Regions from separate parts of the Homo sapiens genome. Here all the other regions are linked to region 1. Evidence: fine-mapped expression QTL. A gene starts in region 1. Each other region holds a variant in brackets. All regions are shown on one strand. Distances are from middle to middle.

Region 1 (9,084 bases):
CACAGCAAGTAGGGCTGGTGGCCATGTGTACCTAGCCAGCCCTGTTAGGGAGGGCCACTGAATTGTACCCATTTTACAGATGAAGAAACTTGGAGAGAATGGCCACCGTCCCTTGGTCATGGAGAAAGGCCTTGCCACCAACAGCTATGTTGGGGTTCATTTGTTTGAGACAGAGTCTCGCTCTGTCACCCAGACTGGAGTGCAGTGGCGCCATCTAGGCTCACTGCAACCTCTGCCTCCCCGGGCTCAAGTGATTCTCCTGCCTCAGCCTCCAAGTAGCTCAGATTACAGGTGCCCACCATGCTCGGCTACTTTTTTGTATTTGTAGTAGAGACAGGGTTTCACCATGTTGGTCAAGCTGGTCTGGAACTCCTGACCTCAAGTGGTCCACCCGCCTCGGCCTCCCAAAGTGCTGGGATTACAGGCGTGAGCCCCCACGTCCGGCCAGGGTTTGGTTTTTAGCTGTCACGTTGCCTTGTGGGAGGTCATGCAGACGTTTCAGCAGGGCCTGAAGGAACCTGCTGAAGGGAACTGAGGCTGAGGTGGGAGAGCAGGGGTGTCTTGACACACAAGAGACCAAGAACCACATCTCGGGCAGAGTGTCACTGGTTGGGAGACCGGGACCCAGCTTAGGTTCCAGTTGGCATTTGTGAGATCTCAGGCGAGTCCTCCTCCCCCGATGGCCTCTACATCCTGTGCTGTGAGATGCGGGTGTTTGCATCCAGCATAACATCTCTCAGGTCAGAAGTCAGAACTGGGAGGTGCTCAGGGGACGGACAACAGTGACCGCACTCAATGATGGTACCTACTGTGGCCCCCAATTAGTAGAGAAGGGGAAGGGAGGTTTTGAGACTTGCCCAACACCCCTGTTTTTTTTTTTTTTTTTTTTTGAGACAGAGTCTCGCTCTGTCTCCCAGGCTGGAGTGCAGTGGCGCAGTCTCGGCTCACTGCAAGCTTCGCCTCCTGGGTTCATGCCATTCTCCTGCCTCAGCCTCCTGAGTAGCTGGGAATACAGGCGCCCGCCACCACGCCTGGCTAATTTTTTGTACTTTTAGTAGAGATGGGGTTTCACCGTGTTAGCCAGGATGGTCTTGATCCCCTGACCTCATGATCCGCCCGCCTCGGCCTCCCGAAGTGCTGGGATTACAGGCGTGAGCCACCGTGCCCGGCCAACACCCCTGTTAAATGGCAGAGCAGCGATTCAAACCCAGGTCTCTTGCTTGCCTGCCCCCAAGTGGTCTAAGGCGAAAGGACTCTGAGGAGCCCTGCAGAGAGGTGGAGGACGTACTTTGTTTTTCTTTTTTTTTTTTGAGACTGAGTCTTCCTCTTGTCGCCCAGGCTGGAGTGCAATGGCCTGATCTTGGCTTACCGCAACCTCCACCTCCCAGTTTCAATCGATTCTCTTGCCTCAGCCTCTTGATTAGCTGGGATTACAGGTGTCTGCCACCATGCCCAGCTAAATTTTTTTTTTTGAGACGGAGTCTCGTTCTGTCTCCCAGGCTGGAGTGCGGTGGCGCGATCTCAGCTCACTGCAAGCTCTGCCTCCCTGGTTCATGCCATTCTCCTGCCTCAGCCTCCTGAGTAGCTGGGACTGCAGGCGCCCGCCACTATGCCCGGCTAATTTTTTTGTGTTTTTAGTAGAGACGGGGTTTCACCGTGTTAGCCAGGATGGTCTCGATCTCCTGACCTCGTGATCTGCCCGCCTCAGCTTCCCAAAGTTTCTGGGATTACAGGCGTGAGCCACCCTGCCTGGCTAAATTTTTTTTTGTATTTTTAGTAGAGACAGGGTTTCACCATGTTGCCCAGGCTGGTCTCGAACTCCTGACCTCAGGTGATCCACCCACCTTGGCTTCCCAAAGTGCTGGGATTACAGGCGTGAGCCACTGGGCCCCACAAGTTTGTTTTTTTTTTTCTTTACAAGATGAGGTCTCGCTCTTGCCTTGGCCAGAGTGCAGTGGCAAGACCACAGCTCACTGCAGCCTTGACCTCCTAGGCTCAACTGATTGTCCTGCCTCACCTCAGCCTCCCAAGTAGCTGGGACCACAGGTGCACGCCACCATGCCCTACTAATTTTTATTTTTATTTTTTCTTTGAGACGGAGTCTTGCTCTGCCGCCCAGGCTGGAGTGCAGTGGCGCCATCTCGGCTCATTGCAAGCTCCGCCTCCCAGGTTCACGCCATTCTCCTGCCTCAGCCTCCTGAGTAGCTGGGACTACAGGCGCCTGCCACCATGCCTGGCTAATTTTTTTGTGTTTTTAATAGAGATGGGCTTTCACCGTGTTAGCCAGGTTGATCTCGATCACCTGACCTCATGATCCGCCAGCCTTGGCCTCCCAAAGTGCTGGGATTACAGGCGTGAGCCACCACGCCCAGCCGCCCTACTAATTTTTAAATAATTTTTTTGTAGAGATGGGATCTATGTTGCCCAGGCTGGTTTTGAACTCCTGTGTTCAAGTGATCCTCCAACCTCGGTCTCCCAAAATGCTGGGACTACAGGTATTGAGCCACTGTACTCGGCCTCTTTTTTTTTTTTTTTTTTTTTTTTTTTTTTGAGTCAGGGTCTCTCATTCAGGCTGGAGTGCAGTGGTGCAATCTTGGCTCACTGTAGCCTCCACCTCCTGGGTTCAAGTGACTCTCCTGCCTCAGCCACCAAAGTAGCTGGGATTACAGGCATTTGCCATCATGCCTGACTAATTTTTGTATTATTAGTAGAGACGAGGTTTTGCCATATTGGTCAGGCTGGTCTCAAACTCCTGGGCTCAATCGATCTGCCCGCCTTGGCCTCCCAAAGTGCTGGGATTATAGGCATGAACCATCGCGCCCAGCGTCCCCAGCATTTATTGACACCTAGTTGAGGCCAGCCCTCCAGTCTGATGGGGGAGTCAAGCAGGCATGAGCTGTGATGTGAAGGGCTTTTTCTAAATCACAGATCTGACTCCTTACTTGAAACCTTTTTGGAAAAAGTCCTGACTGCACCAGTCCCTGGGCTGGCCAGTGTCTCCTTTCAGGAGCCTCTCCACCCAAATTCCCAATATCCTGCCTTCCTGGCCTCAGGGTCTTTGCACGGCTGCAGCTGTAGTTCTGTGCCAGCTACTCTTCCCCCAGTCATGCAGCTGAGCGCCACCTCCCAGCCTCAGCTGCACAGTCCTCGGAAGCCTGTCCCTAGTAACCCTCAGGCTAGGCCAGCACCTTACTGGGCTCCTACGGTCTCCAATTGCCCTGAGAACTCCCAGTTTGTGTTTAGCTCGTTGACAGCACAGAAGGGACCTGTTCTGATGAAACATCCAAAGGATGAGCTGGGTGCAGTGGCTCATGCCTGTAATCCCAGCACTTTGGGAGGCCGCAGCAGGCGGATCACTTGTGGTCAGGAGTTTGAGACCAGCCTGGCCAACATGGTGAAATCCTATCTCTACTAAAACTACATAAATCAGCTGGGCGTCATAGCATGCACCTGTAGTCCCAGCTACTCAGGAGGCTGAGGCACGAGAATCGCTTGAACCCGGGGAGGTGGAGGTTGCAGTGAGCTGAGATCGTAGCACTGCACTCCAGCCTGGGCAACAGAGCGAGACTCAATCTCAAAAAACAGACAAAGGATATAAACCCCACCCAACTGCCATCTGCCATGTCCCTGATTTTGTCCAAAGTCACACCCACAGTATAGGGAAGGTTTTGGAGGGGGTGATCGCTGCAGAGGGAGGTCAGGCACCCCTGCTGGTTCTTGTCCCGGCAACCCCCAGCGGCTCCCCAAGGAAGCCAGGCAGAGGCTTCTGGGCCAGGCTGGCTTTGGCTGGAGCCAGCTGCACTGAGTCCAAGGTGCGTGTCAGCCTTGGCCCAGCCAGCGGTGACTCATGCTGGGCCCCAGCCCAGCCCCAGGAGGTGATCCAGGACAGCAGCCTGACTTCCCCTTATAGCGCTGCGGCTCAGGGTCAGTACCCACTTTTGCCGGGCCCAGTGGGGATCCCAAGAGATCAAGTCCGGCCCCACCCCAAGGAGCCCGCAGTCTCAGAGCCACACCCAAGACATCAGTGAGAACCCTGACTGGCCCGTTGCACCCCCTTTTTGGTCCCTTCCCATCTAGCCATTTTACAGCCTCAAATTCTTTGAGTTGTTTGTATCCCCAGACATGGGGCAAATTCCAGCATATAGTAGGTGCTCAGAAAATGCCCGTGGGATGAAAGACTGAAACTGCCTCTAGGTACATGGAGGGGGAGATTTGGGGTTCCCTCTGTGCTGAGAACCCTTTGTACTCAGGATGAGCCGGTGTAGGTAGCAACCACCATGACCTTTGGCCCTGCCCTGCATCCTGTTCCCCAACCTCTGGCTGTGCCTTCTAGAATCCCCACCCCCTAAGAGCTGCCAGGGATTGGCCAGAACTTGGCTTTGAGTCACAAAGCTGCTGCGGCACCAGGGCTCCAAGACTGGCCGTTCAGACTGCTAGGTTTAGCTTCAGGGGCAGGTGAGTGGGGCTGGTGGCTTTGGGGGCGGGTGAGTGGGGCTGGTGGCTTCAGGGGCGGGTGAGTGGGGCTGGTGGAGGACTTGTTTGCGAGGGTTCGTGGGGGACCCTGTCGTTCTCCTCTGGCCCCCAGTGCCTTTAGAGCCCTTCTGGGCCTTCTGGGTGACTGCAAATGATGGGTCAGCTCCTTGGCCCCTCACAGCAGGGGCTCTAGGGACCTCTAAAGCCTTGATGGTGGATTTGTTCACCTGTGATGGGGGACATCATGGAGAGCCTGTTATGTCTCTTTATTATTATTTTTTTAAATAAATAGAGACATGTTGCCCAGGCTGTTTTCAAACTCTTGGGCTGCAGCGATCCTCCCACCTTGGTCCCCCAAAGTGCTTGGATTACGGGCAGGAGCCACTGCGCCCAGCTGAGCCTGTTGTGTCTCTTTGGCAACCTGAGGATGGTGATCTTATGTCTTGTGACAGATAGGGAAATTGAGGCTCAGAGGGGTTTACTCAAAATTACCGAGCCAGTCGCTTGGCTTCTGTGTCCAGGGGGCCCCTGTTCCTTCTTCTCATCCCCCACAATCCCGTTTCTCACCCCTTCTGGTTGAGTTCCTCTAAAGAGCTGCACCGTTTGGTTGATGAAACCTCAGCCCCTGGAATGGGCCCATTCAGCTCCCAGAGCTGCTGTCTCCCGGGTTCAAGTGATTTTCCTGCCTCAGGAGTTCGAGACCAGCCTGACCCATATGGTCAAACCCCATCTCTACTAAAAATTCAAAAATTAGGCCGGGCAAGGTGGCTCACGCCTGTAACGCCAGCACTTTGGGAAGCCAAGGCGGGCAGATCACCTGTGATCAGGAGTTCAAGACCAGCCTGACCAACATGGAGAAACCCCATTTCCACTAAAAATACGAAATTAGGTGTGGTGGCGCATGCCTGTAATCCTAGCTATTTGGGAGGCTGAGGCAGGAGAATCGCTTGAACCTGGAGGCAGAGGTTGCAGTGAGCCAAGATGGCGCCATTGCACTCCAGCCTGGGCAACAAAAGTGAAATTCCGTCTCAAAGAGAATAATAATAATAATTAGGCCGGGCATGGTGACTCATGCCTGTAATCCCAGCACTTTGGGAGGCCGAGGCGGGCGGATCACTTGAGGTCAGGGGTTCGAGACCAGTCTGGCCAACATGGCGAAACCCCAACTCTACTAAAAATACAAAAGTTAGCCAAGTGTGGTGGCAAGTGCCTGTAATCCCAGCTACTCGGGAGGCTGAGACAGGAGAATCACTTTGAACCTGGGAGGCGGAGGTTGCAGTGAGCCAAGATCGTGCCACTGCACTTCAGCCTGGGCAACAGAGCAAGATTCCGTCCATCTCAAAAAAATAAAAATAATAAATATATGTGTGTCAATTATCCATGCATTGCCTCTTGTCTCCGAATGGACCCTTTCAATATGTGATAAACAAAGGAATTTCTTTCGTTATGTCTTGTTTAAAGTGAGCACAATGCTCGGCCAGGCGCGGTGGCTCACGCCTGTAATCCCAGCACTTTGGGAGGCCGAGGTGGGCGAATCACGAGGTCAGGAGATGGAGACCATCCTGGCTAGCATAGTGAAACCCCGTCTCTACTAAAAATACAAAATATTAACTGGGCGTGGTGGCAGGCGCCTGTAGTCCCAGCTACTCAGGAGGCTGAGGCAGGAGAATGGCGTGAACCCGGGAGGCAGAGCTTGCAGTGAGCCGAGATGGTGCCAGTGCACTCCAGCCTGGGAGACAGAACGAGACTCCGTCTCAAAAAAAAAAAAAAAGTGAGCACAATGCTAAGATTTCTCAATAGAGGGCGCTGGTGAGGCATTAGGGATAGAGGTGTGAAGACACCAGGTGAAGCCTGCCCGAGCCCTGGATCCAGAACGTGGTCCTGTGACTTTGCAGTCTTGACCTGGTGAAAACCTTTCTGCAGCCCTCTCAACACACACAAAAAACAGAGCCCCTAAGGCCGGGCGCGGTGGCTCATGCCTGTAATCCCAGCACTTTGGGAGGCCAAGGTGGGTGGATCACCTGTGGTCAGGAATTTGAGACCAGCCTGACCAATATGATGAAACCCCATCTGTACTAAAAATACAAAAATTTGCTAGGCGTGGTGGCAGGTGCCTGTAATCCCAGCTGCTCAGGAGGCTGAGGTAGGAGAATCGCTGGAAACCGAGAGGTAGAGGTTGCAGTGAAAGGAGATCGCGCCACTGCACTCCAGCCTGGGCGACAAGAACAAAACTCAAAAGAGAGAGAGAAAAAAAAAAAGGCCAGGCGCGGTGGCTCACGCCTGTAATCCCAGCACTTTGGGAGGCCGAGGCAGGCGAATCACCTGAGATCAGGAGTTTGAGACCAGCCTGGCCAACATGGTGAAACCCCGTCCCTCCAAAAACAAAACAAAACAAAACAAACAAAATTAGCTGGGTGTGGTGGGATTCATGCCTGTAATCCCAGCTACTCGGGAGGCTGAGGCAGGAGAATCGCTTGAACCCAGGAGGCGGAGGTTGCAGTGAGCCAAGATGCTGAGTGCCGCTGCACTCCAGCCTGGGGGACAGAGTGAGACTCTGTCTCAAAAATCATAAATAAATAAATGATAATAAACGAACAGAGCCCCCACGGTGGCCCATACACATTGAAGGCCTCCTGCCCCAGCAACACTTAGGTTTCCAGTGCACATCCAGAGCACCAACTGTTGATAACCTGTTCCCACATCTGCACCCTGGAGGGTGGGCCTTTTGCTTGTTTTGCAACTCCAGACCAGCTCTGGCTTGGCCGATCCAGCAATTATCTCCGTTAACTTGTTAGGCGGGACCATACTTTCTCCAAGGAAGTCTGAATGCTCTCCAAATTTGCCCCTTTTTTGGGGATACTCCCTCAGCCCTAAAGTACCACATAGAGTTTCCTTTTATCTTTTTTTTTTTTTTTTGAACTGAGTTTCGCTCAGTCACCCAGGCTGGTGTGCAATGGTATGATCTCAGCTCACTGCAACCTTTGCCTACTGGGTTCAAGAGATTCTCCCGCCTCAGCCTCCTAAGTAGCTGGGATTACAGGCACCTGCCATCATACCTGGCTAATTTTTGTATTTTTAGTAGAGACAGAGTTTCACCATGTTGGCCAGGCTGGTCTTGAACTCCTGACCTCACGTGAGCCACCCACCTCGGCCTCCCAAAGCACTGGGATTACAGGCGTGAGCCACTGCGCCTGGTTTTTTTTTTTTTTTTTTGAGACAGAGTCTCACTCTGTCGCCCAGGCTGGAGTGCAGTTGCGTGATCTCGGCTCACTGCAATCTCCATCTCTCGGGTTCAAGTGATTCTCCTGCTTCAGCCTCTGAAGTAGCTGGGATTACAGGTGCATGCCACTGTGCCTGGCTAAGTTTTGTATTTTTAGTAGAGACGGGGTTTCACCATGTTGGCCAGGCTGTTCTCGAACTCCTGACCTTGTGATCCACCTGCCTTGGCCTCCCGAAGTGCTGGGATGACAGGTGTGAGCCACCATGCCTGGCCTCCCAGGTTACCTTTTATCTTATACTTACTCTTTAATCACAATCTTTTTTTTTTTTTTTTTGAGACAGGGTCTCAGCCAGGCACCGTGGCTTACACTTGTCATCCCAGCTACTTGGGAGACTGAGGCACAAGAATCACTTGAACCTGGGAAGCAGAGGTTGCAGTGAGCCGAGATTGTGACGCTGCACTCCAGCCTGGGCAAAAGGGTGGGACTCTGTTTTAAAAACAAAAAAGAGATAGGGTCTCATTCTGTCGCTCAGGCTCGAGTGCAGTGGTGCCATCGTAGCTTACTGCAGTCTCAACCTCCTGGCCTCAAATGATCCTCCTGTCTCAGCCTCCCGAGTAGCTGGGACTACAGGTGCATGTCACCATGACTGGCTAATTTTTATGTTTTTAGTAGAGACGGGTTTTACCATGTTGCCCAGGCTGGTCTGGAACTCCTGGCCTCAAGTGACCCACCCACCTTGGCCTTCCAAATTGCTGGGGTTACAGACGTGAGCCACTGTGCCCGGCCTATTTTTTTTTTTTTTTTGAGACAGTTTTGCTCTTGTTGCCCCAGATGGAGTACAATGGCACGATCTCAGCTCACTGAAATCTCTGCCTCCCAGGTTCAAGATATTCTCCTGCCTCAGCCTCCTGAGTAGCTGGAATTACAGGCGTCAACCACTATGCCTGGCTAATTTCTTGTATTTTTAGTAGAGACGGGGTTTTACCATGTTGGCCAGGCTGGTCTCGAACTCCTGACCTCAGGTGATCCACCCTCCTCGGCCTCCCAGAGTGCTGGAATTACAGGCGTGAGCCACGCCTGGCCAATTTTTTTTTTTTTTTTTTTTTTTTTTTAAGAGACAGTTCTTGCTTAGTTTCCCAGGCTGGTCTCAAACTTCTGTCCTCAAGTGATCCTCCCATCTTGGCCTCCCAAAGTGCTGGGATTGCAGGCAAGAACCACTGTGCTCAGCCTGGACGCCATTTCTGATGCCTGGATATCATGCCCTTGTATGATTAATTTAAGCCTGTCTCCATTGATAATTTTGGTTTCTTCCAGTTTTTCCTCTGCTAAACAATACAGTGTTAAACATCCTTGAACATACTTCTGTATTCATTTGTAGCAGAACCTCTAC
Region 2 (10,414 bases), 25 kb after region 1:
GTCACCTCAGGCCAGACCCTCTGCTACTCTGAGCCTCAGTTTCTCATCTGTCAAATGGGGATGAAGCCCAGCCTGAGTTCCATGCCTCTTCTAGACTCAGCCGTCATCCCCACAGGGCCTGGGGGGCTACATAGAGATCTGGGGAGGGTGGCATGTGGACCCAGCCCCCTCTCAGGGCCAGTGTTGTGTGTTATTTCCGCATTTCTGCTGCCTAGGGTGAGTCAAGGAGGAAGCACAAAGTTTGGCCCAGAGCAGAGTGCATGGGTGGAGCAGAGAGTTGATGAATGAACTTGTAAGTGCCTAAGAGGCCCAGTCACCTGGAACTGGGTGGGAAGTCGTTGTGGGAGGTGGCTCATGAACTGCTTACCTGCCCTCAGCCTGGTCCCTGGACTCCATGCCTGGGATGGGATGTGAGCCAGGAAGTAGCTGGACCAACACGTAGAAGGGTGGGTTCCGGAGACATGTTCCCAGCGCCTGTGTCTTTGTGTCTTCCATTAAAGTTGAGGTTAGCCTAGGGCTACCTGGAGAAAATTAGGGCTGATCCTCTCTGAGCTCATAGGTGGATCTTTATAGTTGAGTGTCACTGTGCACCCACTGTGTTTCTATTCTATTGTGTGTGTGTGTTTTTTTTTTTTTTGAGACGGAGTCTCACTCTGTTGCCTAGGCTGGAGTTCAGTGGCATGATCATGGCTTACTGCAGCCTTGAACTCCTGGACTCAAGCGATCCTCCCACCTCAGCCTCCTGAGTAGCTGGGACTAGGCATGCACCACCATGCCTGGCTAATTTTTGTTTTATTTTTTTGTAGAGACAAGGTCTCATTATGTCTCCCAGGCAGGAGTGCAGTGGCGCAATCATGGCGCACTACAGCCTTGAATTCCTGGGGTCAGGCAATCCTCCCGCCTCAGCCTCCCCAGTAGCTGGGAGCACCCAGCTTGTGTACACCCACTATGAACCTGACTGATGAACTGTCAGAGGCACCAACTCCACATGAACTCCATTTTACAGAAAAGAAAACTGAGTCCCAGAAAATTTAAAGGAGCTGCCCAGCACTGCCTGGGATGCAGTCACTTCCCATATCCAAAGGGCTTCTAGAGCTCTCAGCCAAGAGGACTGGGAACGCTGATCTGCACTTGAACCCAGGCTGTGGGACTTCAGACCAGGAGCATGAATTTGAGTGGGAGCTTCAGTTTCCCACTGAGAGCTCACATGGTGTCCTAAATCTTTCAGGTCTCCCTATGACCTGGACAAAAAAATAAATTAATTAAAAATAAAAATGAAAAGGCTGGGCATGATGGCTTATGCCTGTAATCCCAGCACTTTGGGAGGCCAAGGCAGGTGGATCATCTGAGGTCAGAAGTTCGAGACAAATCTGGCCAGCACAGTGAAACTAAAAATGCAAAAATTAGCCAGGCGTGGTAATGCACGCCTGTAATCCCAGCTACTTGGGAGGCTGAGGCAGGAGAATTGCTTGTACCCAGGAGGTGGAGGTTGCAGTGAGCTGAGATGGCACCACTGCTCTCCAGCCTGGGTGACAGAGCGAGACGCCATCTCAAAAAAAGAAAAAAAAAAAGAGAGAGAGAAAGAGAGAGAGAGAGGGTCTCGCTATGTTGCCCAGGCTGGTCTCTAATTCCTGGGTTCAAGTGATGCTCTCACCTTGACCTCTCAAAGTGCTGGAATTACAGGCGTGAGCCACCGCGCCCAGTTTTTCTTTCCAGATATTGTGACCTCAGAGAACAGTATGGAGACATCACCTGTCAGCTCTCTGATTTCTTCTCCCTTCGCCCACAGCACCCACAGTTCAGGGGAACCCCCCAAATCCTACTCCAGCACCATGAGTTTGGAGACAGACTCCATAACCCACCTCAGCCCCTCAAGTTCAGGGGCAACCCCTACCATCCAGCCGAGCCCCAGCTCCACAGATTCAAGGATGATACCCTCCTCCCCACAACCAGAGACAATCACGCACCCTAGTTCTGGCTCCCCCAGTGCAGAGCTCACCCCCTCTTCCCATTCCACCCTCCCCAGTTCCGAATCCCTGACCCCGCACTGGAGCCCCACTTCCCACAGCCCCGGAACGGAGCCCTTGACCTCCACTGACCAGACCTTGGAGCCCCCTGGCCCAGGTGAGTATTAAGAGATTTGGGTGTTTGTAGGGAGGTGGCGGGTGTAACAGGCTGCAGTTTTGGAACTGACCACCAGGGGGAGGTACAGCCCCGAGAATGCTCTAGGAAGGGCTTCTTGTCTCTGCTCCATTGTCTAAAGCTCTTCATGCTATGCGCATTTATTAAGTGCCTAGTGTATGTCACGGCTGGGCACGCAGCGATGGGCAAAGAGAGAAACTAATACTTGCTGTGGTGGGGAGACAGGTTATACATTATGTATTTGGGCCTGGGCAAAATAGCAGGACTTTGTCTCTACAAAAAAATCTAAAAATGGCGGGGCGCGGTGGCTCAAGCCTGTAATCCCAGCACTTTGGGAGGCCGAGGGCGGGGGCGGGGGCGGGGGGGGCGTGTATCACGAGGTCAAGAGTTCAAGACCAGCCTGGCCAAAATGGTGAAACCCCGTCTCTATTAAAACTACAAAAATTAGCCAGGCGTGGTGGCAGACGCCTGTAATCTCAGCAACTCGGGAGGCTGAGGCAGGAGAATCGCTTGAACCCAGGCGGCAGAGGTTGCAGTGAGCTGAGATCGTGCCACTGCACTCCAGCCTGGGTGGCAGAGTAAGACTCTGTCTCAAATAAATAAATAAATAAAATAAAAATGGCTGGGCGTGGTGGTTCACATCTGTAATCCCAGCACTTTGGGAGGCCAAGGTGGGAGGATCACCTGAGGTCAGGAGTTCAAGACCAGCCTGGCCAACATGGTGAAACCCCGTCTCTACTAAAAATACAAAAAATAGCCAGGCATGGTGGCGGGCGCCTGTAATCCGGGCTACTTGGGAGGCTGAGGCAGGAAAATAATTTGAACCCAGGAGGCGGAGGTTGGAGTGAGCCCACATTGAACCACTGCACTCCAGCCTGGGAGACAGAGCAAGACTCCATCTCGGGGGGGAAAAAAAAGACTCTATCTCAAAAATAAATAAAGTAATTGATTAAATAAAATTTAAAAATTAGGCTGGGCTCAGTGGCCCACGCCTGTAATCCCAGCACTTTGGGAGGCCGAGGCGGGTGGATCACCTGAGCCAATGAGTTCAAGACCAGCCTGGGCAACATGGTGAAACCCCATCTCTACTAAATATGTACACAAATTAGCTGGGTGTGGTGGCACACACTTGTAGTCTCAGCTACTGGGGAGGCTGAGGTAAGAGGATCACTAGATCCTTGGAGATGGAGGTCACAGTAAGCTGAGATAACGTCACTGCACTCCAGCCTGTGTGACAGAGCAAGACCCTGTCTCAAAAAAAAAAAAAAAAAATTGTCCAGGCATGGTGGTGCATGCCTGTAATCCTAGCTACTTGGGAGGCTGAGGTGGGAGGATCACTTGAGCCCAGGAGATAGAGGCTGCAGTGAGCTGTGATTGCACTACTGCACTCCAGCCTGGGTGACAGAGTGAGACCCTGTCTCTAAAATACATGATTAAAAAGTGGCAGCCTCAACTGGAGAGGGAAGAGAGGTCAGCTTCCTGAGAACAGATTTTAAAAGGCTCTGGGCCCTGGTGGGTGTCTTAGGCTTGTGGGGAATAGGACCCAGTGCTGACTCTGAGTTCCTTTCCCCAGCTCCAGGTGACACTGGGCCCCGTGAGTTACACAGGAACCCGAGTGTGGTGGTGGTCGTGTGTTTGCTGGTGTCTCTTTTGCTCATCGGGTCTGTGGTCATGGCTGTGAGATTCTGTCACCGGAATGAGTCCAAGTTTGAGAACCTGGACGAGGTGTCCATGGTAAGGTAGGGCTGGGCTGGGGGCTCAGCCCTGGGGCCAAGGCATGGTTGGGGGAGCTGCTATCCCAAGCAGGGCCAACCTGGGCTGCAGAGCCTTTTGGTGTCTGAATGCCTCCCTGTGTGTTCCTTCCTCAGGGATCCGTGAATGACAGATTGTCCTTTGCCCACCACCTCCAGGAGTGAGCCCTGAGGAGCCAACAGAGATGGGGGCATGGATGGGGCTGGGGTTCCTGGGGAGGAGCAGAACCTGAGGAAATAAAGCCCCTACCATTCATCCAAGGCCTCGTGTGAAAACACGAGTTATGGACTCGTGTGAAAACATTAACTGAGCACCTACTATGTGCTGGGCTCTGTGCTGGGGTCACAGTGGGGACCATGTCTTTACTTTCAGGGGATCCACAGACTCAAGGCAGGGACAGATAAGAATCAGGAGCTCACTTGGCTGGGTGCGGTGGTTCACACCTGTAATCCCAGCACTTTGGGAGGCCAAGGCGGGCAGATCTCCTGAGCTTAGGAGTTTGAGACCAGCCTGGCTAACATGGCGAAACTCTGTCTGTACTAAAAATACAAAAATTAGCTGAGCGTGGTGGCAGGTGCCTGTAATCCCAGCTACTCAGGAGGCTGAGGCAGAGAATCGCTTGAACCAGGGAGGCGGAGGTTGCAGTGAGCTGAGATCGCCCCATTGTACTCCAGCCTGGGCAACAGAGCAAGACTCCATCTCAAAAAAAAAAAAAA[T/AT]AGGGCCAGGCGTAGTGGCTTACACCTGTAATCCCAGCACTTTGGAAGGCAAAGGTGGGTGGATCATTTGAGGTCAGGAGTTCAAGACCAGCCTGGTCAACATGGTGAAACCCCATCTTTACTAAAAATACAAAAATTAGCCAGGCGTGGTGGTGTGTGCCTGTAATCCCAGCTATTAGGGAGGCTGAGGCAGGAGAATTGGTTGAGCCTGGGAGTCAGAGGTTGCGGTAAGCTGAGATTGCACCACTGCACTCTAGTCTGGGTGACAGAGTGAGACCCTGTCTCAAAACAAACAAACAAAACTGGGGGTGCCGGGCATGGTGGCTTACCACTGTAATCTCAGCACTTTGAGAAGCTGAGGTGGGTGAATTGCTTGAGCTTGGTAGTTTGAGACCAAATTGGGCAAAATGGCAAAACCCCATCTCTCTCTCTTTTTTTCTTTTTTGAGACAGTCTCCCTCTGTCACCTAGGCTGGAGTGCAGTAGTGCAGTCTTGGCTCACTGCAGCCTCTGACTCCTGGGTTCAAGCCATTCTTTTTTTTTTTTTTTTAATAAGATGGAGTTTCGCTCTTGTTGCCCACACTGGAGTGCAGTGACACGATCTCAGCTCACTGCAACCTCTGCCTCCTGGGTTCAAACGATTCTCCTGCTTCAGCCTCCCAAGTAGCTGGGATTACAGGCACCTGCCACCACACTCAGCTAATTTTTTTGTATTTTTAGTAGAGATGGGGCTTCACCATGTTGGCCAGGATGGTCTCGATCTCCTGATCTCGTGATCCACCCGCCTCCGCCTCCCAAAGTGCTGGGATTACAGGCGTGAGCCACCGCGCCCAGCCAATGACCAGAGAGGGTCTTTGATCTACCCGGGGCGGCACAGCACAGCGGGCAACTTTCCTGGAGCCCCCAAGCTCCTTAGGCCACACCCCATGGGCTCTGCTTGGAAGCAGATATCCTAGACCCTGAGTTGATAAAATCCCCCCCTTCCCAGAGCTGCTGGTCCCCTACCACCATCTTCCTTCGCGCCCTCTCTCTCACTCTATCATATGCAAACACATGAACAATTAATCTTAACACCTCTCACCCAGCCTCCTCACTCCTACGCCTCCCTTCCCTCCTTCCCCCCTCCTTCCTCTGCCCTCCCCGCCCCTCCCCCTCCATGCCCGGCCACCCTCTTGGCCACTCTCTCGTCCCCTCAGGCCCTCTTGGACACTCTGCCCTCCACCCACTGGGAGCCTCACCCAAGGAAAGTGTGTGGATTATGTCCTGGCCTGGTGCCCAGACAGTTAAGGGGCTCCGCTGAGTGGGTGTTGAGGGAGCCCTGGGCCTCCCTCTTGGTCAGGTCATTTTCTCCCCTCCTTCCCTCACTAGCCAGCAGGTCATGGGACCCAGGCAGGACTCCGCAGTGGTGGTAAGTGCCAGACATGCCTGGGCCTCCTGGAGCAAGCTTATTCTTGAGCTTGGGGGCGTCTCAGGAGAGGTGCTGGGGTCTCGTAATCCCCCTGAAACCATCAGAGCCACTCTGGGAGCTGAATGGGTCTCCCATGTGTCTGGGGCCAGGAGACCTTGTTTCGCCAGTCCTGATGCCCCCACCCAGGCTGCTGAACCTGGACAGGTGTGGGGAGGGGCTTTGGGCACCTGGCTGCTGTCCCTGGATGGGGACCGCTGCAAGGTCCGGGCGGGTGTCTCACACTGGTGCCTGTGGTGTGGTCCATGCCACCTTGATTTAGTTCCTTGGGGTTCAAGGGAGGGTGCAGAGAGTGTGGGAGTGAGCTTCTGTCTAGGGGGTGTCCCACAGGGCCGTACCTGGGCTCCCAGTGGTCTGGAGGTCTCAGAACCATTTCTGCAGGGCCACAGATGCCAGCAGCATGAGGCACAGCAGGACAACACTCTCCTTCCTGCTGAGTGAAGTGAGTAGGGGGTGGGGGTGGCCCAGGCCATGGTGGGGAGATCCCAGAGACCCTCTACTGAGAAATACCCAGAGCTGGCCAGGCGCGGTGGCTCACGCCTGCAATCCTAGCACTTTGGGAGGGCGAAGCAGGCGGATCACTTGAGGTCAGGAGTTCAAGACCAACCTGGCCAACATGGAGAAACCCCGTCTCTACTAGACACACAAAAAACTTAGCTGGGCATGGTGGCTCATGCCTGTAGTCCAGCTACTTGGAGGCTGAGGCAGGAGAATTGCTTGAACCTGGGAGGCGGAGGTTGCAGTGAGTTGAGATCACGCCACTGCACTCCAGCCTGGGAGACAGAGTGAGACTCTGTCCCCACCACCAAAAAAAAAAGAAACACTTAGAGCTGCTCGGGGACCAGCTCACAGGGGCCCACTGAGGCCCAGAGAGGCCACCAGGGAATTGGGGACCTGATCCAACTGTCCAGCCCAGGGCTGTGGCCACTGCTTTTGGGAGCAGGAGATCCCTTGTGCCTGGACACAAGGTTTTGACTCACCCAAGAAAAGGGGACCTGGCTGCCCCCGGGCCTGAGCAGTGGGTCATGAGGTCACAACTTCAGATCACAGCCAGTGCCCCCATTCTGGGAAACTGAGCCAAGAGGAAAACCCTGCGGGGGCTGGATTCAAATCCCAGGCCCATCACCTGAGTGGCTGGTAACCTCTCTAGGACTCAGTGGTTTCTGTTGTTGTTTTGTTTTGTTTTTTAGACAGGGTCTCACTCTGTCGCCCAGGCTGGAGTGCAGTGATGTGATTTTTGCTCTCTGCCATCTCTGCTTCCCGGGTTTAAGTGATTCTCCTCCCTCAGCTTCCCGAGCAGCTGGAGTTACAGGCACAAGCCTTGACGCCCGGCTGATTTTTGTATTTTTAGTAGAGACGGGTTTCTCCATGTTGGCCAGGCTGGTCTTGAACCCCTGATCTTAAGTGACCCACCTGCCTCAGCCTCCCAAAGTGCTGGGATTACAGGCATGAACCACCATACCTGGCCAGAACTCAGCGTTTTTGTGTGTTAAAAAACTGGGCTAACTTTGTGTGGAATGAGGGTGCTCAGGGTGAGCCTCGGGTCTCCTAGGGCAGGCGTAGCTGCATATGCCTTAATGTTTATTTATCCACACTCCAGCCATCTGCAGGAAGAGGAAAGGAAAAGGGTAGTCTGGGCGCGGTGGCTCACGCCTGTAATCTCAGCGCTTTGGGAGGCCGAGGCAGGTGGATCGCTTGAGCCGAGGAGTTCAAGACCATCCTGGGTAACACAGTAAGACCCTATCTCTATTAAAAAAAAAAAAATAGCCAGTCATGGTGGTGTACGCCTGTAGTCCCAGCTACTTGGGAGGCTAAGGTAGGAGGACTGCTTGAGCACGGGAGGTCGAGGCTGCAGTGAACCGTGATCATGCCACTGCACTCCAGGCTGGGTGACAGAGCGAGACTCCATCTCAAAAAAAAAAAAAAAAAAATTAGCCTGGTGTGGTGGCGGGCACCTGTAATCCCAGCTACTTGGGAGGCTGAGGCAGGAGGATCGCTTGAACCCGGAAGGCAGGGGTTGCAGTGAGCCAAGATCACACCACTGCACTGCACTCCAGCCTGGATGACAGAGTAAGACTCTGTCTCAAAAAAAAAAAAAAAAAATTAGCTGGGCATGGTGGCAGGTGCCTGTAATCCCACCTACTCGGGAGGCTGAGGCAGTAGAATCGTTTGAACCTGGGAGGTGAAGTTTGTAGTGAGCTGAGATTGCGCCACTGCACTCCAGCCTGGACAACAGAGCGAGACTCCGTCTCAAAAAATAATGATAATAATAAATAAATAAAGGACCTTCTGATGACCTCTCCCACACTCAGCTCACAGCATCAGTCATTTCACCTGCACATGGGCACCCGCTGTGTGCCAAGCCACATGCTGAGTGTGTAGGACACAGAACTGCAGTGACAGGCCCCAAAATGACAGGGCTCATGAGACAGATGTTAAGGCAAGAAAAAAGAGAAAATGTGGGGTTGGGTGAGTGCTCATGAGACTGCTCGAGCTGGGCAGGAGGGCCTTCTCCGGGAAGTTGACATTTTAGCTGAAGTATGGATGGAAACAAGCAGCTGGCCATTTTAACAGCCGGGGGAAGGGTGTCCCCGGCAGATGGCACAGCACATGCAAAGGCCCCGAGGCAGGTTTAAGGAACAGCAAAGAGGCCAGGCACGGTGGCTCACACATGTAATCCCAGCACTTTGGGAGGCTGAGGCAGGTGGATCACTTGAGGACAGGAGTTTGAGACCAGCCTCGCCAACCTGGAGAAACCCTGTCTCTACTAAAAATACAAAAAATAAGCTGGGTGTTGTGACAGGCACCTGTAATCCTAGCTACCTGGGAGGCTGAGGCAGGAGAATTGCTTGAACCCAGGAGGTGGAGGTTGCAGTGAGCCGAGATTGTGCCACTGCACTCCAGCCTGGGCAACAGAGTGCGACTCTGTCTCAAACAAACAAACAAACAAACAAACAAACAAACAAAAAACCAACAACAGGCTAGGCACAGTGGCTCATGCTTGTAATCCCAGCACTTTGGGAGGCCACAACTGGCGGATCATGAGGTCAAGAGATCGAGACCATCCTGGCCAACATGGTGAAACCCTGTCTCTACTACAAATACAAAAAATTAGCAGTGCATGGTGGCACGCGCCTGCAGTCCCAGCTACTCGGCATGCTGAGGCAGGAAGATCACCTGAACCTGGGAGGCAGAGGTTGCAGTGAGACAATATCGCGCCACTGCACTTCAGCCTGGGTGAAGGAGTGAGACTCCATCTCAACAGAAAATAAAAAAAGAAAGAAAGAAAAAGAAAAAAAAAAAGCTGGTCACTGTGGCTCATGCCTGTAATCCTAGCAGTGTGGGAGGCCAAGGCAGGTGGATCACCTGAGGTTGTGAGTTTGAGACCAGCCTGATCGACATGGAGAAACCCCGTCTCTACTAACAATACAAAATTACCTGGGTGTGGTGGTGCATGACTGTAATCCCAGCTACTCGGGAGGCTGAGGCAGAAGGATCGCTTGAACCCAGGAGGCGGAGGTTGCGGTGAGCCAAGATCGCGTCATTGCACTCCAGCCTGGGTGACAAGAGGGAAGGCCCTGTCTCAAAAAACAAACCAAAACAAACAACAACAACAACAACAACAAAACCCAACAACAACAAAAGGGAGCTCTCAGCTAGGTGTGGTCGCGGTCGCCTGTAATCTCAGAACTTTGGGAGGCTGAGGTGGGAGGATTGCTTTATCCCAGGGGGCCGAGGCTGCAGTGAGCTGTGACTGCGCCACTGCACTCCAGCCTGGGTGACAGAGTGAGACGTCGTCTCAAAAAAAAAAACAAAACAAAACAAAAAGGGGAGGTAGCTCAGGGTCTCCTACGAAGGCCTTCCCCACCCAGGAGCCTCCCATCAGGCCCTCCATCCCCATCCCAGCTTCTTAATGAAGAGGGCAATTAATCAGGAGTAGCAGGGCCAGGTGCAGCAGTTCATGCCTGTAATCCTAGCACTTTAGGCCGAGGTGGGTGGATTACTTGAGGCCAGGAGTTAGAGACCAGCCTGGCCAACAGGGTGAAACCCTGTCTCTACTAAAAATAAAAAAATAAAAAATAAAAAAAAAGATTAGCCTGGCATCGTGGTGGGCGCCTGTAATCCCAGCTACTCAGGAGGCTGAGGTGGGAGAATCACATGAAACAGGGAGTTGGAGGTTGGAGTGAGCCGAGATGGCACCACTGCACTCCAGCCTGGGCAACAGAGTGAGACTTTGTCTCAAAAATAAAAGATAAAAAATCAGGAGTGGTAGGTTGATGTGTGCTGCAGCTGAGACCAGAGGACACCCCACTATACCCCATCCCTAGTCCCTGGGAGCC
Region 3 (8,000 bases), 47 kb after region 1:
TGGAGGCTCCAGGGCCAGGAAGGAGGGTCCAGGAACTCCAAGCCCTCCTTAGGTTGGAGGGAGAACCAAGTCAGCTGGACCAGCATCCCAGATTTCAGTCCAGGCTGAGTGGCCTTGGATGGGTTACTTCCCTGCTCTGGAGCTTGGCTTTCTTGCGTCCTGGTGCATGGACCCCCTAGGGGCCACTGGCTTCTGACTCCATCAGCAAGCCTGGCCTCTCGCCCCCAGCCTGGCCCTCCAGCAGCCTGGGAGGCATCTGGGGTAGATGGTTCCCACAGCCCAGAGGGGTTGGAGCTGTTCTCAGGTGACCCAGGAGCCCCTTCTCCCGCCCCGGCTTCTAGTTCCTCCTTCCCCATCCCTTCTGGTGACTCATGATTTTCCATTTTCAAGAAAGAACAAACAGAGCCTTGGTATGAGCTCTTCTAGGGGAAGCCCCCGCTTGGCTCTGGGAGGCAGGAGCGGTGGATTGGGTGTCCCTGTGCACGTGTGTGTGCACACACACGTCGTTCTGCGCATCGTATGCGCTGCAGTCACACATACGTGGATGAGCATGCATGTGGCCCACTGTGCTTCTCTGTGCTGATATGAGGGTAGGGGTTCACCCCAGGGGGAAGCCCAGCGAAACTGAGTTCAAGGCCAGGCCCCAAGGCCAACCTGCTGTGTGGTATTGAGCAAGCCGTGGTGCCTCCCGGAGCCTCGGCGTCCTCATCAGAGAGGTGAATATTCTGTGCCTGAGCCTGGTACACACTGGGTCCCCAGCTTGTGGCTCTTTACTCAGCCCTAGAAACTGTTGGGGGAATGTGCTTCCCCACAGCCCCAGATGGATCACAGGGGTATGGGAGGGTCTAAGCATTTTGTTGAGAAGGCATTTAAGCACCTACTGGGTGGCAGGCCCTGTGTTGGAGACGCAACCATGGATAAGAAGCTGTGTCCCCTAAGGCTGATGGTGGAGACACTCATACCAGGTGGAGAAGGCACAGGTTGATAGGGAAAGGTCAGAGAACAAGCCCAGAGGAGGCTCCAGACCCAGCAGTGGGGTGGGAGTCAGGGAGGACTGCTTGGGAGAAGTGACATTTAAGCTTAGCCTGCAGGAGGAAAGAGGTCAGCTAGGGTGAGTGCAAGAAGGGTATTCTAAGTAGAAGGAACAGAATGTGCAAAGCCTCAGACTCAAGAGGATCAGGCATGTGAGGAGCTGAAAATGGATCAGTGTGGCTTGAGGATGGAAGGAGAGGCTCTCTGTTTATGCTACAAGCATTTATTTATTTATTATTTTTTAGATGGAGTCTCTCACTCTGTTGCCCAGGCCGGGTGCAGTGGCACAATCTTGTCTCACTGCAACCTCTGCCTCCTGGGTTCAAGCGATTCCCCTACCTCAGCCTCCCCAGTAGCTGGGATTACAGGTGCCCACCACCATGCCTGGCTAATATTTGTATTTTTAGTAGAGACAGTTTTGCCATGTTGGCCAGACTGGTCTCAAACTCTTGACCTCAAGTGATCCACATACCGTGGCCTCCCAGAGTGCTGGGATTGCAGGCATGAGCCACCACACCCAGCCGCTACAAGCATTTATTGAGCATCTACTAAGTGCCAAGTACTGAGGGAACAGCAGGGAACATGGCAGACCTGGCCTTGCTCTCCAGGGACTCACAGGCAAATAATCATGACAATAAATGTGAAGTTGTATCCATGGCTGGAGGGTGCTCTGAGGCATTTACCTGGCTAGTCAGGGAGGGCTTCTCGGAGGAGGTGACTCTAACTGTAACCCAAAAGACAAAGCATCAGCAGGCGACAAGCATTCAGGTGAGGGCCATGGGGTGGAAATAAGCCTGGCTGATTCAGAGAACAGTGAGGAGTGGGGAGAGACTGGAACAGTGTAAGCCAAGAGAAGTGAGGTGGGGATGGGCCACATGGGACCTCTGGGAGGTGTGAATTCAGATCTGAGGGCAATGGGGGGCCATGGGAGGGTCTGCAGCAAAGGAGTGTGTGATTTGACCCATGCGAACATCTACACATGTGACCTGGCCCCCACCCTGCTCATTCTGCTTGACTCCTCCGTGGGGACTTGGGCAAGTCATCTCCCCTCTCCACGTCTCAGTTTACTCATCTGTAAAATGGTCAAAAACACCCATTTAAAAAAATCTCTCTGGGGCCACCTGGTGGCAGTGGAGAAAAGTGCCTGCCCAGAGAAGGGAACATTCAAATGAGGGAAACTGAGGCAGTGCTGTGCTAAAGGCATCAGAATGGGCGCAGTGGCTCACACCTGTAATCCCAGTACTTTGGGAGACTGAGGCAGACGGATCACCTGAGGTCAGGAGTTCAAGACCAGCCTGGCCAACATGGTGAAACCCCGTCTCTACTAAAAATACCAAAATTAGTTGGGCGTGGTGGCAGATGCCTGTAATCCCAGCTACTTGGGAGGTTGAGGCAGGAGAATCACTTGAACCCAGGAGGCAGAGGTTGCAGTGAGCCAAGATTGCGCCACTGCACTCCACCCTGGGCGACAGAGTGAAACTGTGTCTCAAAAAAGTAAGGCCAGGGACAGTGGCTCACGCCTGTAATCCCAGCACTTTGGGAGGCTGAGGCAGGTGATCACCTGAAGTCAGGAGTTCGAGACCAGCCTGACCAATATAGTGAAACCTCGTCTCTACTAAATACAAAAAAAAAAAAAAAAAAAAATTAGCTTGGCATGGTGGCACATGCCTGTAATCCCAGCTACTTGGGAGGCTGAGGCAGGAGAATTGCTTGAACCCAGGAAGCGGAGGTTTCAGTGAGCCGAGATTGTGCCATTGCACTCCAGCCTGGGCAACAGGAGCAAAACTCTGTTCTCAAAAAATAATAATAATATGTAAATAAAATAAAATAAAATAAATAAAGGCACCAGAGACTACTGGGCACCTCTACAGGAGATGCAGTAATGCAGGGATGGAGTCAGGGTAGGGGTGCTTCTGTCCAAACCTCTTTCAGCTTTTGTCCCTTACCCAGCGGGGCTTGGAGAGCCTCCCAGGGCCTGGTAGGAGCCAGGCTGTGAATGCTGAGTCCTGGCTCTGTGGCCACCCCTTGCTGTGACTCTTTCTCCATCCGAACAGCTATTAATTAACACCTTCCTGTTAGAACTGTTAATAAAATATTTAAAATTAAATATATGGATGAAACATTAATAGTAAACCTATTGATAAAATATTAATGTGAGACTCGCCCCTGGGACTACAGAGGGGATGAAATGAGTTAACGCATCCAGTGCGGGAGGACCCAGGCTGGGAAGAACACTACCTGTCCGGGTTCAAATGACCCCAGTCTTGCACCTTATGGCTGTGTGTCCTTAGGCAAATGACTGTGCCTTTCTGTGCCTCAGTAGCCCCATCCTCGAAATGGGAATAGTAGTCCACACTTTGTAGGTTTCGTCTGAAAATCCAATGACTTTTCCCTTCACTGCTGTTGGCTGAGTGCTGCATGTTTTTGAAGCACTCAGTTTACATAATTTTGTTTAGTCTTAGCCTCCTATTTTATGTCTGTGATT[T/C]TGGGGGAGGGGCTGAATCTCTGTGCCTCGGTTTCTCCTTGGGGACATGTAACTATTGTCACTTCTCTCACAGTGGCGGGGAGGTGGTGTCAAGACTGCTGAGACCTTGGCTCCAGTGTCCCCACAAGGCCAATCCTAGCAGCATGTGTCCCCTAGGGATGGCTATAATTAGGTCTGGCCCCAGCAGACAACGATGGTATTTTTGTCTTGGGGACAGCGAGGTCTGGTTCCCGCCAGGTGTCTGGTTGCAAGACTGCGGGGGTTAGGGGGGCTTCCTGGCCAGATACCTGAGGCTCTCTGTTTTTCTGGGCTGTGTGACTCCTCCTCTGAGCCTCTGTTTTCTCATCTGTAGAATGGGGAGACTCTCATGTATCTGGCCTTAGCATGGTTGCCTCAGGATCTCCTGTGGGATCCCTGATCAATGGGCTTCTCCAGGACTGCCAGAAACATGGGTACCATGTCTGGGGACACCAAGACTGAGGCAGCCGCCCCGGGGGGAAGGCCCAGGCTGAGAGACAGAGGTCATTCCACAGCAAGGGGCACGGTCAGGCCTCAGTTGCTGGGAGGTCCCCTGGGCCTCTGCCTGTGACATGGCTGTTTCTAGGTCCCTCCTCCTTGTGTGACACATGCTAAGCCTTGGTTTCCTTTTCTGTAAAGTGGAACAAGGCCAGCCTGACTCCAGCATTCTGAGGGTAGAGCACCTGGTACAGACTCTGGGAATCCTCCCAGACACCAGAGGCCCCCCCCAGTCCTGGGACAGTGAGGTCCCTCTGATGGCAGGGGTGGGCGGCTGAGGTTTCGCAGGACAGAAGACTTGGCAGAGGTGATGTGCGGATGTTTGTCTAGGAGGAGACAGCAGGAGAGGTGAAGGCATCCAGAGACAGGGCCTGGGGAATGTCAGAGCAGGTGGGGGATCACGTGGGGAGTTGCGTGGAGGGGTGCTGGGAGAGGGGGCCCTGAGTTTGGGTCTCGCTTTCTGCAACAAAGACCCATGCCCGTGACCGCGTCCATGGAAGCCTCAGTTTCCCCACTTGGCAAAGGATTAAGGGTTTGTAGTTTCTGGTGCGCTGTTTGATGGCACTAGGCCTCAGTTTCTCCATCTGGAAAATGGGCAGAGGAGGATTAGAAACATTGCGTGGGATCGGACATTGGCAAACTCTATACCTCGGTGATGCCCTCAATAATGGAAGGCAAGACAGCTGTTTCTCTGGGCACCTTGCTTTCTGACTCCCTCATTCTACACTTTTTAGCAGTTATTGGCCCAGCAAGCTGCACTAACCAGGGACGTGCCGAGGAAGGCTGAGTAAGATCCAGGCTCTGAGATCTTAGGGGCAGCCCTCTAAAGAAGTACAGTTGGGCCTGGCGCAATGGCTCACACCTATAATCCCAGCACTTTGCGAGGCTGAGGCAGGAGGATCACTTGAGTCTGGGAGTTCGAGATCAGCCTGGGCAACATAAAGAGACACCCCCATCTCTCCAGAAAATACATTAGCCCGGGCGTGGTGGTGTGCATCTGTAGTCCCAGCTACTTGGGAGGCTGAGGTAGGAGGATCCCTTGAGCCCAGGAAGTTGAGGCTGCAATGAGCTAGGACTGTGCCACTGCACTCCAGCCTGGGCAACACAGCGAGATCGTCTCAAAAAAAAAAAAAAAAAAAAGGAGCAGAGAGTTGCGTCTGACTCTGTGCCTCAGTTTCCCCGTTTGTCCCGGGGGTCGTCAGGGAGCCGCCGGCCTCGAGGCGGGGCCGATGCGCCCTTTGCCCCCTCCCCGCTGGGCCCCGCCCCCGCAGCTGTCCAGAAAAGGTCCCGCGCAGCCGGCGCTCGGTCCAGCCTCCACGCAGTCCTGGCGATGCAGGGCCCCCCCGCGCCCGCCCCGGTCCCCGGGCCCGGCTCCCCTCGGGGATCCCCGCGCGGCTCCCCCGGGCTCTTCAGGAAGCTTTTGGTGAATCAGAGCATCCGCCTGCAGCGGCGCTTCACGGTGGCCCATCCGCTGTGGTGAGGCTGGACAGAGGGCCTGGCGGGGTCACCGGGACGCCCGGTGTGGAGGTGGGAAGGGCAGGGACAGGGACAAGGCCAGGGACAGCTGGGGCCGGGGCCGGAGTCCGGGCTTGGACGCTCTGCCTCTCCCTCGCTTTCTCTGTATCTCTCTCCCTCTACCCTACCTTACCCTACTTTTGTCTCGCAGTTGGTGACTCTGTCTCTCTCTGTCTCCGTCTGTCTCCACCCGCCGCCTGGATATAGGCCCAGGGGACCAGCCGTCTGTCTCCTTCCAGCTGTGAGGCCCAGAGTGGGACGGGCTGAGGCTCACGTCTCCTCCTGACCCTCGCCGGCCTGGGGCAGGCAGGCTGTGCGTCCTGGCAGTGGGAGGAGGGGGAAGGGGCACTCCTTCCCTTGGTGCCCCCTCCCACCAGCATCCTGTCCCAGTGCCAGCAAAGAGATGCCCTGGGGGCCTCACAATGAACTCTGGGTGTCCACGGAGGAAGACCTGAATTGAGGGGGTTTTCGAGGCAGGGCGTTCGGGAGTCCCAGGCTGAGCGCGCGCCTGCGCCCGGCAGCTGCTTGCGCTGCATCCTCTAAGCACTCGGTCCACCCCTCTGGGTTCGAATCCCTGCCTTTCCAGAAACGACTGTGACCTCGTGGGGAGGGATGGGGGCAAGGCTGGGGTTCGGAGTGGGGCTTGTGGGCGCCGACTGTGGCTGGCATCCTGCGCTTGGTCCGCGCCGAATTGGCACCCACTTGGTAAGTCTGGCACCCAAAGGCTGAGAGGGGAGGTCCCTCTCCAAGGTCATAGCTGGGGTTGGAGGGAGAAGGTATGACCGTGGTTCCTGGTGGTTCCATTTCAACCAGGGAGTGGGAGAGTGGGGGTTCCGTGTCCTGGAGAGCGACCTCGGGGCACCAAACACTAGCGAAGCACATTCCCTTTTGAAGGCGCTAGAGACAGCGCAGGGACGTCGAGGGCGCGTCGCGGGTACTCAGAAGTGAGGATGAACGAGGGCCGGCCCCGCGCAGGCCAGACCCGAACCCAAGTCCGAGCCTCCCTGGCTCAGTTTACCCCCCTGGCCAATGGGCAGCCGCGCCGTTCCCACAGCCGGGGGGCTCTACCCCCGCACCGCCCGCGTCATGGAACCACAGCCTGACCCCGCCGCTCCCGGCTAAGTTTAGAGCAGAAAGAAAAACAGCCTCCCCCGCCCCAAGAAAACCCGGGCCCAGTCCTTAACCCTCCGCGCCCGGGATCCGGATTTGCACGCCCTGTGGCCGCTCCTGGCCTCAGTTTCCCTATTTGTCCACAGACGCGCTTTTCTGGAACCCTTGGGGAGAGCCGAGAGAGGGGTAGGGGGTCGCGATCCGCATGCCTCCCCCTCGAGGGGCAGATCTGGGTTATCCGCCGCCTCCAGTCCGCCCCTAAGAGCGTCTCCCATTGCACCACAGCGCCCACGGCGCACCCCAGACGGGCCAGGGAAGGGTTAAGAAGCCCCGCCCCTTCGGCTGGCCGTGGGGTTCATCCCGGTGCTGCTAAACCCGCTGGAGTCGGACGGAACAGGCCGAGCGCGGCCGGTCTTAGTCGGAGATGCCCGAACTAGCCCTCATGTAGCCGGACGTGACCGAACATGCCCGACCCGGCCCGAGCGTCACCCGGACTTGTTCGAAGCAGACCGAGCGTAACCGGACTTAGGCGAACAAGCTCGAACTTATCCGAAGTCTCCCGAGCTCAATCGGACGTAGCCGAATTCTCCCGAACTCATCGAACAAACTCTTCGTGACCAAGTCCAATTCGACGTGATCAGACCCAACTCAGACCCGGTCATACTTGGACCGAATGCTGCCAAATCCCCCACCTCTACCCAGATCTGAGCCTACGCGGGGTGCCGACCCAGCTCGTGGACGGGGATACGGTGACCTTTGACCCAAAAGTCTTGGCCGGGACCAGCCGGACACTGGCCCTCGGCCGGGAGCTCCGAGTCTCAGGCGGTCCCGGTTGTCTTCCTGTCGGTGCCGCTTCCGCCTGCCCTTCTTGAAAACCCACCCCCAGGTCACCGCCTTCTCTAGCGCCCCAGTTCTTGCCCTACGCCCTTTCTCTGACCTCTGACCCCAAAGAGGAGGAGCCAGAGGGAAAGACAGGGTTTGAGGGTAGAACGGGACAGGTAGTGTGGAGAGGGAGGAGGGTGGGCCGGGCAGAAAGCACGGCCTGTGCAAAGACCCGGAGGTGGAAGATAACAGGCGGAACGTTCAGGCTGAAGATGAAGTGGAGGAGTGGGGGAGCCTAGGGCAGGACCCGGCTAGCTGGGGGCGTGGTCGGCGGCCGTGGGGCGGAGCCTTATGGGCTGAGGGTGGAGCCTGGAACGCTGGGGGCGTGGCAGGTAGCCAAGGGTGTGAGCAAGTTGGCTAGGAGTGGGGTCTCTCTAGACTAAGGCGCACGCAGGAGCTAGGCAGAACCCCGGCCTCCTCCAGGTAGAAGAGCCCAAGAAGCTGTTTCCAGTCCACGTGT

The links.
Region 2: its variant is fine-mapped to the expression of IQCN in whole blood (INTERVAL, PIP above 0.99).
Region 3: its variant is fine-mapped to the expression of IQCN in whole blood (TOPMed, PIP above 0.99).

What each region holds. Positions count from the first base shown.
Region 1 is chr19:18,269,774-18,278,857 of GRCh38, reverse strand. IQCN (IQ motif containing N) reads left to right here and starts at 4,406. Exons shown (of 4, transcript NM_001145304.2): 1 at 4,406-4,455. RefSeq lists enhancers at 3,782-3,901, 3,685-3,979.
Region 2 is chr19:18,243,774-18,254,187 of GRCh38, reverse strand. It overlaps CIST1 (colon, intestine and stomach enriched 1), which reads left to right. Exons shown (of 4, transcript NM_001396036.2): 2 at 1,717-2,124; 3 at 3,716-3,876; 4 at 4,011-4,154. The coding sequence ends at 4,058. It also overlaps a transcript of PDE4C not described here. Among named protein-coding and RNA genes, the nearest start is that of CIST1, 6.4 kb to the left of the region's middle. RefSeq lists an enhancer at 4,944-5,847. The variant T/AT (reference allele first, on the strand shown) is at 4,611.
Region 3 is chr19:18,223,779-18,231,778 of GRCh38, reverse strand. It overlaps PDE4C (phosphodiesterase 4C), which reads left to right and starts at 5,341. Exons shown (of 15, transcript NM_001098818.4): 1 at 5,341-5,509. The coding sequence starts at 5,364. RefSeq lists enhancers at 1-228, 6,994-7,233 and silencers at 5,398-5,457, 7,844-7,913. The variant T/C (reference allele first, on the strand shown) is at 3,518.